Homo sapiens: one gene and its partners. The protein of the gene in region 3 purifies or fractionates together with the protein of the main gene of each other region. This does not show direct contact. Each region holds a gene or a part of one and is shown on either strand. Other genes may lie near its edges.

Evidence for each region. The genes of interacting proteins can lie anywhere in the genome.
Region 1: the proteins of ZNF276 (region 3) and SHCBP1 purify together in Homo sapiens (affinity purification with mass spectrometry; one large-scale study listed by BioGRID and IntAct). This does not show direct contact.
Region 2: the proteins of ZNF276 (region 3) and ANKRD28 purify together in Homo sapiens (affinity purification with mass spectrometry; one large-scale study listed by BioGRID and IntAct). This does not show direct contact.

Annotation. Positions count from the first base shown.
Region 1 is NC_000016.10:46,611,380-46,614,879, reverse strand, and holds part of SHCBP1 (SHC SH2 domain-binding protein 1), read left to right. Parts: intron 1-3,500. UniProt on the Homo sapiens protein: May play a role in signaling pathways governing cellular proliferation, cell growth and differentiation. May be a component of a novel signaling pathway downstream of Shc. Acts as a positive regulator of FGF signaling in neural progenitor cells.
Region 2 is NC_000003.12:15,791,480-15,794,979, forward strand, and holds part of ANKRD28 (serine/threonine-protein phosphatase 6 regulatory ankyrin repeat subunit A), read right to left. Parts: intron 1-3,500. UniProt on the Homo sapiens protein: Regulatory subunit of protein phosphatase 6 (PP6) that may be involved in the recognition of phosphoprotein substrates. Involved in the PP6-mediated dephosphorylation of NFKBIE opposing its degradation in response to TNF-alpha.
Region 3 is NC_000016.10:89,724,537-89,728,036, reverse strand, and holds part of ZNF276 (zinc finger protein 276), read right to left. Parts: intron 759-3,500; coding exon 680-758; exon of another isoform or gene 611-679; intron 1-610. UniProt on the Homo sapiens protein: May be involved in transcriptional regulation.

The DNA.
Region 1 (3,500 bases), about 43 Mb from region 3:
TCACAAATGTTAACAAAAGTAGGGGATTCTTAATTGGGTTTGTATATATTTATAAACTGACTTAAAAGTTGTGGATGTTAAGGCTTATGGTCGGTATATTTCAATACAAGAGTACAGAAAGTAGAAGAAGAGAAAGACAGTGAAGAAGGTTATATACTATGGTGTGTGTACTGCTAAAAGACGAATACACATTTTTTTCAAGCATATGTCTGGTCAAAGCAAGTGTTTTCTTAGGCTGCTTCTAGGATCCTTAGGGGATGTATTCCTGCCTGTGAGTCTTTTTTGCCATAGTTATTTCCACTGCACAAGTGGACCCCTTGTCCCTTCCTTGGGAAAGAAAGCCCATACCTGGATCAGTGGGTATGATTTCAACAATTTTTCAGATCAATCTTTTATTGGATAGTTCCTGATATAGATAGTTATTTTGTATCTTCGCCAAAGAAGGCTTACTTGTAGCTATTTAAAAATAGACCCATATTCCTTCAGGAACTAGAAGACTGAGCAATATATAATGACCATAATGTAAATAACATTGCTTGGTGTTTTGTAGTATAAAAAGTACTTTCTATTTTCTATACCATTAGTGAGTTAACGTGGTTTTGCTGAGCTTAACTCGAATGCTCTGCAAAGAAGCAGAGTGTTTCAGGCCCTGCTGCCAACATCTTACGGACAGTTTCTAATTGTATGCAAGAACATTTAACCCTAGATGTTCAGTATTGGGCCAAGCAGAATGAATCTAAAGAACCGGTTTCTGTCCAGAACCAAAATAACTCCCTTCTATTTTTCTCATTAAAAAAAATCTGTCAATTGAAGCATTTGAAGATAAAGTGATAACTGATAAGTTTAGGAAATTAGGAATCAGGGAGCTAATCTCTATGGGCATAGAAGTTCGTGGAAAAATAAGTATCTGGAATGTTATTTGGTAGTATTATTTGAGGAGGAGCCTGGTTAAATTTACACTTCATTTGGAGGGCTGAGATTTGGATCAGTGCCCAGTGAAGGTCAAATTATGAGGGATTTCATTTGTTCGTTGATTCAATGAATATTTGAGTGCCAGGTCCTTAGTCAAGGATGGGGTATGTCTGGTGCATGAGACACACCATCATCAGGGAGCTGTCAGTCTAAAGGTGGGAGATGAGCCTTGATGAAATAATCACGCACAGATGTCTGCATGATTGGAAATAGCAGTGAGTGCTGTGATGAATTACAGAGTGTCCTAAAATTAGGTCAAGTTGCTGTTCTAGGGTTATTTACTGGAATAATGACATTTGAACTTGGGTTAGCTGTGTGAAAGGGGAGGCAGGGGTGGGGAAGGGAAAAGATTTGGGAGCTCAGTGTGTTTAAGGAGCTGAAAGGCCAGCATGGCTGGAACACAGACAGTGCTGAGAGAGACCTAGGAAATGAGATTAGAGAGGCTGGCAGGGGCCAGACAGTGCGGGGATTTGTTAGCTGGTTAGTCATTTTTGTCTTTAAGAGCAGTGGGAAGCCACTGAAGGATTTTTATTCTTGGGTGAATATGACTAGTTTTGTGTTTTGTGTTTTTGTTTTTTTGGAAACACGGTATTATTCTGTTGCCTAGGCTGGAGTACAGTGGTGCAATCATGTGATTCAATGCAGGCTCGAACTGTGGGGCTCAAGGCATCCTCTTGCCTCAGCCTCTGGATCAGCTGGGATTATAGGCATGTGCCACCACTAGCCAGCTAGTTTTTTAACAACATTTTTCTGTAGAGATGGGGGTCTCGTTGTGTTGCCCAAGCTGGTCTCGAACTCCTGGGCTCAAGCAGTCCTCCCACCTCAGTCCCCTAAAGTGCTGCTTTGTGTTTTCAGGGGTTCATTGTGGCTTCTGTGTAGAAAACAAATGGTGGGAGATGGAATTGGTAGACCAGTTAAGACGCAAGAGAGAGGACTAGAGTGGGGATATAGAGAGGACGGATGGAGGCTTACTGAGAAAGTACAATGGCTGGACTTGGTGGTCGAGTGGATATCAGAGATGAGAAGATGTAAGTGAGGTGAGAGAAGTCAAGGCTGACTTCCACATTTCTGGCTTGAAAGAATCAACACTGCGGGAGGTACAGAAGGGAATGATGTGTAAATGCTTGGCATGGTACTGGTGAGGATGATATTGGAGCCGAGTCATGGAATAGAACTATAAGCTTACCAGGTGGAAAAGGTGGAAGGCACTTCTGGCAGCTTGACTAACAAGTTACATGGAGGTTTGAAAGAGCTTGTGAAATTGAGAGTTTAGGTACAACGGCTCTGAGGCAGGAGAGGCGCAATAGGGCCAGATTATGAATCTATTTATAGTACCACGTTCAGGACTTCTTTTTGAGGGCTAAAAGGGAGCCAGCAGAGGTTTTTTCAATCGAGTAGAGGCATGCTTAAGTTCATTACAACAACAACAACAACAACAACAAAAGACTCCACTAGAGGGTGAAGGGACTAACAGCCCAATCTACAATAATTAGGAGATGGCTGGTTTCATTTTCAGTGCTTCCTTTTCACAGCAGAACTTCTTGAAAGAGTTATATATAATCACAGTCTATACTTCCTGGTGTCTCAGTAACTCTTCTACCCTGACCTCATCTCTGAAATTATGCTCAAAGACTTCCATGTTCTTGTATTCAGTCAACGTTTCACTGATCTCATCCTGCCTCTGATCTCATCTTGCTTAACGTCTTGACATTCTAGGTATTTGATCATTCCCATCTTCTTCACACCCTCTCCTCTCAGCTTCTGGGACACCACTGTTCAGCTGGTGTCTTACTGGCTTGCTTTCTCAGTCATCTTGGCCAGCTTTTCCTCTCATGCTCAAACTTTAGAATGTCAGAGTTACCCAGGGATCAGTCCTAGGCCATCTACTGTTTTTTCCCTAATCAACCTTGGAACCACTTTGGAATCACCTGAGGAATTTCTTTATAAAAGTATTCCAACCAATACATGAAGAAAGTGATAGAATATCAGTATTTTGTAACCACTAATGAAATAAAGGTTCTAGACAGTGAACATCGATGACTGCTGCAACCATTAGGGAAAGAGAACTTTATAGAGGGTGGATCAGGTTGACAACCTGTATCTGTTGATCAATCTGAACCTCACAAAAAGACATGGCCAGGCATTGTAATAAAGTCCTCAGTTACTGTTGTTGGTAGGTTCTTAGAAACTGTGATGTTAATGAAACCAATTTTACCATAGGCTGACTGATATAAACAAAAGTTAAAGTTTCTACAGCATATTTCTGGTCATGAAAACATCATCAAACTTCTAAATAAAGACCCCAAACAATTCTAATCTTAAACATTGAAATAAATGTGAACTATATATACATTAAGAAATATTAATGCAAACAAGATAATTATTGACCCAATTTCCAATTTTTGGTGAAACAGTGAGTGACAGTGGTCATTGTGGTGACGAGTAAATCAAGGAATAAATGTTTGCAAAGCGGAAATTATAAGGAGCACCTCCTGCCATCACCCACTTCAAAACAATGACAAACATAG
Region 2 (3,500 bases), on a different chromosome or scaffold from region 3:
TTTTTGACAAAGGTGCCAAGAACATACACTGGGAAAAGACAAGTCTCTTTAATAAATGGTGCTGGGAAACTGGATAAACACATGCAAAATCATGAAACCAGACCCCTATCTCTTGCCATATACAAAATTCAAATCAAAATGCATTAAATACTTCAAACTGAATCTAATACAAGAAAACACTGGGGAAAATCTCCAGGACATTAGTCTGAGCAAATATTTCTTGAGCAATAGCCCACAAGCACAGGCAACCAAAGCAAACATGGACAAATGGGATCACATCAAGTTAAAAAGCTTCTGCACAGCAAAGGAAGTAATCAACAAAGTGAAGAGACAACCCACAGAACGAGAGAAAACATTTGCAAACTACCCCTCTGACAGGGGACTAATAACCAGAATATAAGGAGCTCAAACAACTCTACAGGAAAAAACCTAATAATCTGATAAAAAATGGGCAAAAGATCTGAATAGACATTCCTCAAAAGAAGACACACAAATGGTGAAAAGGTTCTCAACATCACTAATCATCAGATATCCAAAACTCAATGAGATATCATCTTGTCCCAGTTAAAATGCCTTTTATCCAAAAGTCAGGCAGTAACAAATGCTGGTGAGGATGTAAAGAAAAGGGAACCCTTGTTCACCATTGGTGGGAATGTACAACCACTACGGAGAACAGTTTGGAGGTCCCCCAAAAAACTAAAAATAGAGCTACCATATGATCGAGCAATTCCACTGCTGGGTATATATCCAAAATAAAGGAAATCAGTGTATCGAAGAGATCTGCACTCCTATGTTTGTTGCAGCACTGTTTACAATAGCTAACATTTGGAGGCAACCTAAGTGTCCATCAACAGATGAATGGATAATGAAAATGTGGTACATACACACAATGGAGTACTCGTCAGCCATAAAAAAACAGACCCAGTCATTTGCAACAACAGGGATAGAATTGGAGATCATTATGTTAACCGAAATAAGGCAGGCACAGAAAAACAAACATCACATGTTCTCACTTACTTGTGGGATCTGAACATCAAATCAACTGAATTCATGGACATAACAGAAGGATGGTTACCAGAGGCTGGGAAGGGTAATGGGGGGTTGAGTGGGAGGTGGGGATGGTTAATGGGTACAAAAAAATAGAATAAGACCTACTATTTGATAGCACAATAGGGTGACTATAGTCAATAATAACTTAATTGTATATTTTAAAATAACTTAAATAATGTAATTGGAATGTTTGTAACTCAAAGGATAAATGCTTGAGGGGATGAATACCTAATTCTTCATGATATGATTATTTCACATTACATGCCTGTACCAAAACATCCCATGTACCCCATAAATATAGACACCTATTATGTACCCACAAATTTTTTTTAAAACCCACTAAAATAAGAAGAAAAATCTATTAGGTGTGTTACTAAGAAACGTGCTGTTTAGTGGTCTACAATATTCAAAACCTCAGGGTGTGACTAAAGAAACTCATCTAAAATTATACAATGACTATTTAATGGTAGAGAAATAAATCTGAACTTATATCCATTCTAAAAATGAATAAAAACAACTTCAAAAAACTTAAGAGAAACCTGAGTTTCAAAAAGTCCAACGTTATTCTCCAAATACTTATTTAAATAAATTTACTTTGGAAAAACACGACTGTCACACTGACATAAAGCTTAAAAATATTTTATTACCTATTAAAAGTCAGTGCATTTAACACCCATTGCCTTTTAAAACCCCATATGATTCCTTATCAGACAAAATCAGATGATATTTACCATCTTAAATTCAAATAATGGCCAAAAAGTTAACAAATCTTGACTTTAAGGCAACACTCTCAACTACTAAGAAAGGGTCACGAGAGAAAAGGCCTAAAAGCAATCATAAAAGTTGTTGTCAAAAACCTTTGTATCACTGAAGACAATTGTCAAAGAGTTACTCTCAAGAAAGGCCTACTGATGAGTGAGCTGATGCTCTCAATGACTCTGAATTTTTTTTTAATTTAGGATAAATTGATTAAATATAACATAAAAGTAATGTCAGCTACAATAAACTTTGTAATGATGGAGAAATTAGCCCTGGTAAATGGAATTATAGTTCAAACTTTCTAATCAAGGTAGTATTTGTCAGTACTATTAAAATAAAACCAAAATAACAAGAAAACCTTAGGAGTTAAATGGAAAACATGTTTTCCACCTTTTCATGCGTCTATACCCCTTGAGCTATTTTCTAAGAAACGCATACTCTTCAGTATACCCTGGGTAAAGTAGCCAGACACTTCATTTAAAACAAATAAATCATGGCCCGGCACAGTGCCTCACGCCTGTAATCCCAGCACTTTGGGAGGCCAAGGCGGGCCGATCACCTGAGATCAGGAGTTTGAGACCAGCCTGGCCAACATGGTGAATGAAACCCTGTCTCTACTAAAAACACAAAAATTAATCGGGCGTGGTGGCAGGTGCCTGTAATCCCAGCTACTTGGGAGGTTGAGGCAGGAGAATCGCTTGAACCCGGGAGGCAGAGGTTGCAGTGAGCGGAGATCATGCCACTACACTCCAGCCTGGGCAACAGAGCCAGACTCTGTCTCTAAATAAATACATACATACATACATACATAAATCCTGAATTAGGTGCATGTTTCCAACTAAATATAAACTTGAAGGCAATTCACTTAGAAAAAATTTTAAAAAATATATAATGATAGCATTCTGTTCATTACCCAATGTTAAAATTAACAACAGTTTTAGCCAATGATTCAAATCTATTCAGATAATTCATTATTTTAAAAATAAGGTAAAACTTTTTTGTATCTACCTAACATTAAGTGGTCACAGCAGTATTATATTAAAAAAAAAAGGAGGAAAGATGAGAGTTAAAAATGAGCTTGCAATGGGTGCTTTCTTAAAACCACAATCATTTCTAGGTCATCTGTTTTGGTGTTGCCACAGCGACTTTGTGAATCATATGACTTTTCACCCCCTCCATAACTCAGGGGTACATTTGTTTCTGGTAAAAATATATACATTAGTGGATGTAATTTTGTTAGAGTACGTAATGTACTTTCAGCCACAACTTAGTAAACTAAATACTGGCCACTGAAAAAACATAACAGAGAGAGAAAATTATCCATATATCCACCTTTCTAAAACTGTCCATCATGTCAGCACTGAATATACTACTGTATCGTTAAGTCTGAAAACTTTTCCAACAATGACTTTACTGAAAACCTAATCTGACAAAAATTAATCAAGCACCATTGTAAAACACTCACCATGATTATTTACAAAAAGCAAATCTGATCTTATATTTAGATATACACTTACAAGAATCCTCATTTGAAATGCACAGTTAAGTATTTAATGGTGAAGTATCATGATTTCTGCAACTTACTACATATATATGTAAAAGTTGTATATTAATAAATACAGAAAGCAAATGTGGCAAAATGTTATCAATGCCAAAAGTAAGTGAAAGGTATATGGGTAGTCAGCATGTTT
Region 3 (3,500 bases):
ATCTGTGTTGCAGCCAAGGTTTACAGGAGAGGGTGGAAACGGTGCAAACCCCAGCCTGGCACAGCTGCCCTGAATGGCGCTTGGCTCAGAGGCAGGGGTGGCCCAGGGAGTTTGCAGACACTGATGAGGTCCCTTCTGAGGCCCGTCCTCCTGCAACACCTCCTCGCAGAGCCTCGGCTTCAAGCCACAACAGTGTCATAGTCAAGGGCTAAAGTCGGGGTTTCTCTACTCCAGAAACATCTGGAGCGAACACAAAACTATGGCCCTAAAACAGTAGCAGAAGCAAAGGACCCAGCCAGAGTGGTTTCAACAAACTCATTTCTAGGCTGCTCTGGGTCAGAAACCCTATCAGGCTCCCTCTGGAGCTGCCTCAGGTCTGGGAGTGCTCTCTGGCACCCAGGAAACCATCAATCAGAGACAAGAAGCCTCGGAAGCTCCCCAGCCCCTCCTCTCCCGCCACCTCGAGAGGAGGCGTGTCCCAACCAGGGCACGGACAGCCGGCCCCTGTGATGGCTTAGTTTGGTACCAGCGCATGGGCAGCCGACCCTACGATGGCTGTTTGGTTTTTGAAGGAGAAATTTTAGGCTGTTTAAACCCACTCTTCTCTCACCCCTCAGAAAGGTCACTGATGGTTTTTGAAGGAGAAATTTTAGGCTGTTTAAACCCACTCTTCTCTCACCCCTCAGAAAGGTCACTGAACTCGTCTTTTACCCGATCATCCGAGGTTGAAGATGGAAGCTGCTTCTCACCCAACTGCCCTGAGAAACAAAGAACAAGGCTCCTGTTACCAACACGGAGCACAGAAAGGTCTCACCTGCAAGGAGGCATGATTCTACTATTGATGACTAGAAGGGAGACTGGGGTCCCTGACCCTCAAGTTCTCCCCACCATGGCCCCATCCCCACCAAGGGTGCTATGCAGCCTCTGATCCTGCCCTGCCAGCCCAACGTCCAGAAGCACACAGGCAGCAACAAGCATCAGAACCCTCAGGAACAGCAGAACCAGAAAGCCCAGTCCTTCCACTGACTCCGATCCAGTCCTTCTAGGACAGCCTGGACTTGGTGGATGTTCTGAGACATTTAAAAAATTACTAGGCCAGGCACGGTGGCTCATGTCTGTAATCCCAGCACTTTGGGAGGCCGATGCAGGTGGATCACGAGGTCAGGAGATCGAGACCAGCCTGGCCAACGTGGTGAAACCCCATCTCTATTAAAAATACAAAAATTAGCCGGGCATGGTGGCACACACCTGTAATCCCAGCTACCTGGGAGGCTGAGGCAGAAGAATCGCTTGAACCCGGGAGGCAGACATTGCAGTGAGCCGAGATCGCGCACTGCACTCCAGCCTGGGCAAAAGAGCAAGACTCCGACTCAAAAAAATAAAATAATTAAAAATTACTATTCTCAGTCCGGGTGCAGTGGCTCACGCCTGTAATCCCAGCACTTTGGGAGGCTGACGCGGGTGGATCACAAGGTCAGGAGATCAAGACCAACCTGGCTAACATGGTTAAACCCCGTCTCTACAAAAAATACAAAAAATTGAGCTGGGCGTGGTAACTCATGCCTGCAATTCCAGCACTTTGGAGGCCGGGGTGGGCGGATCACCTGAAGTCGGGAGGTCGAGACCAGCCTTACCAACATGGAGAAACCCCATTTCTACTAAAAAATACAAAAATAGCCAGGCATAGTGGTGCATGCCTGTAATCCCAGCTACTCGGGAGGCTGAGGCAGGAGAATCGCTTGAACCTGGGAGGCAGAGGTTGTGGTGAGCTGATATCGTGCCACTGCACTCCAGCCTGGGTAACAAAGAGTGAAACTCCTTCTCAAAACAAATACAAATACAAATACAAAAAAATTAGCAGGGTGTGGTGGCACAAGCCTGTAATCCCAGCTACTCGGGAGGCTGAGACAGGAGAATCACTTGAACCCAGGAGGCAGAGGCTGCAGTGAGCCGAGATTGTGCCACTGCACTCGAGCCTGGGCGACAGAGTGAGACTCCATCAATAAATAAATAATACTGTTCTCTCGGCCAGGCCTGGTGGCGACAGAGCGAGACTCCATAAATAAATAAATAAATATTACTGTTCTCTCGGCCAGGCCTGAAGGTTCATGCTTATAATCTCAGCCTTTTGGGAGGCCAAGGCAGAAGGATCACTTGAAGACAGAAATTCAAGACCAGCCTGGGCAAAAGAGTGAGACCCTGTCTCTACTTAAAATAAGTTTTCTTTGTTTTGTTTTTTTCTTTTTTAGACAGAATCTTGCTCTGTCGGTCAGGCCAGAGCGTAGTGGTAGAATCTCAGCTCACTGCAATCTCCGCCTCCCAGGGTCAAGCGATTCTCCTGCCTCAGCCTCCCAAGTAGCTGGGCCTACAGGCAACCACAGCCACATCCAGCTAATTTTTTGTATTTTTAGTAGAGATGGGGTTTCACCGTGTTAGTCAGGATGGTCTCGATCTCCTGACCCCGTGATCCGCCTACCTCAGCATCCCAGAGTGCTGGGATTACAGGCGTGAACCACTGCACTTGGCCTAAAATAAGTTTTAAAAAGTATTGTTCTTGGCTGGGCGCGGTGGTTCACACCTGTAATCCCAGCATTCTGGGAGGCTGATGCAGGTGGATCACGAGGTCAGGAGTTCAAGACCAAGCCTGGCCAACATGGTGAAACCCCATCTCTACTAAAAATACAAAAATTAGGTGGGCGTAGTGGCGCGTGCCCATCATCCCAGCTACTCGGGAGGCTGAGGCAGGTGGATCACGAGGTCAGGAGTTCGAGACCAAGCCTGGCCAACATGGTGAAACCCCATCTCTACTAAAAATACAAAAATTAGGTGGGCGTGGTGGCACGTGCCCGTCATCCCAGCTACTCGGGAGGCTGAGGCAGGTGGATCACGAGGTCAGGAGTTCGAGACCAAGCCTGGCCCACATGGTGAAACCCCATCTCTACTAAAAATACAAAAATTAGGTGGGCGTGGTGGCATGTGCCTGTCATCCCAGCTACTCGGGAGGCTGAGGTAGCGGTGAGCCAAGATGGCACCACCGCACTCCAGCCTGGGCTACAAAACGAGACTCTGTCTCAAAAATAAATAAACACATAGATAGATAGATAAGTAGGTAAATAAATAGATAAATAGGTAGATAAGTAGATACATAGATATACAGATAGGTAGGTAGATAGAGAGAGACAAAGAAGTAGGAAGATAGATAGGTAGGTAGGTAGATAGATACACAGATAGATAGAATTGTTCTCAACACACTGCATACAAGTTTACAGAGCCAAGCAGCTCTAAGATGTGACACTCACAATCCCGTTCCTACCTGAGGCCCCCGAGCCGCACTGTCTCATCTGTGCACCCGTATCTAGCTAAACTATCTGGGTAGCTGTGTTTCTGTTTGGGACAGAGTCTTGCTCTGTCACCCAGGCTGGAGTACGGTTGTGCGATGTCGGCTCACTGCAACTTCCGCCTCCCAGGCTGAAGTGATTCTCGTGCCTCAGCCTCCAGAG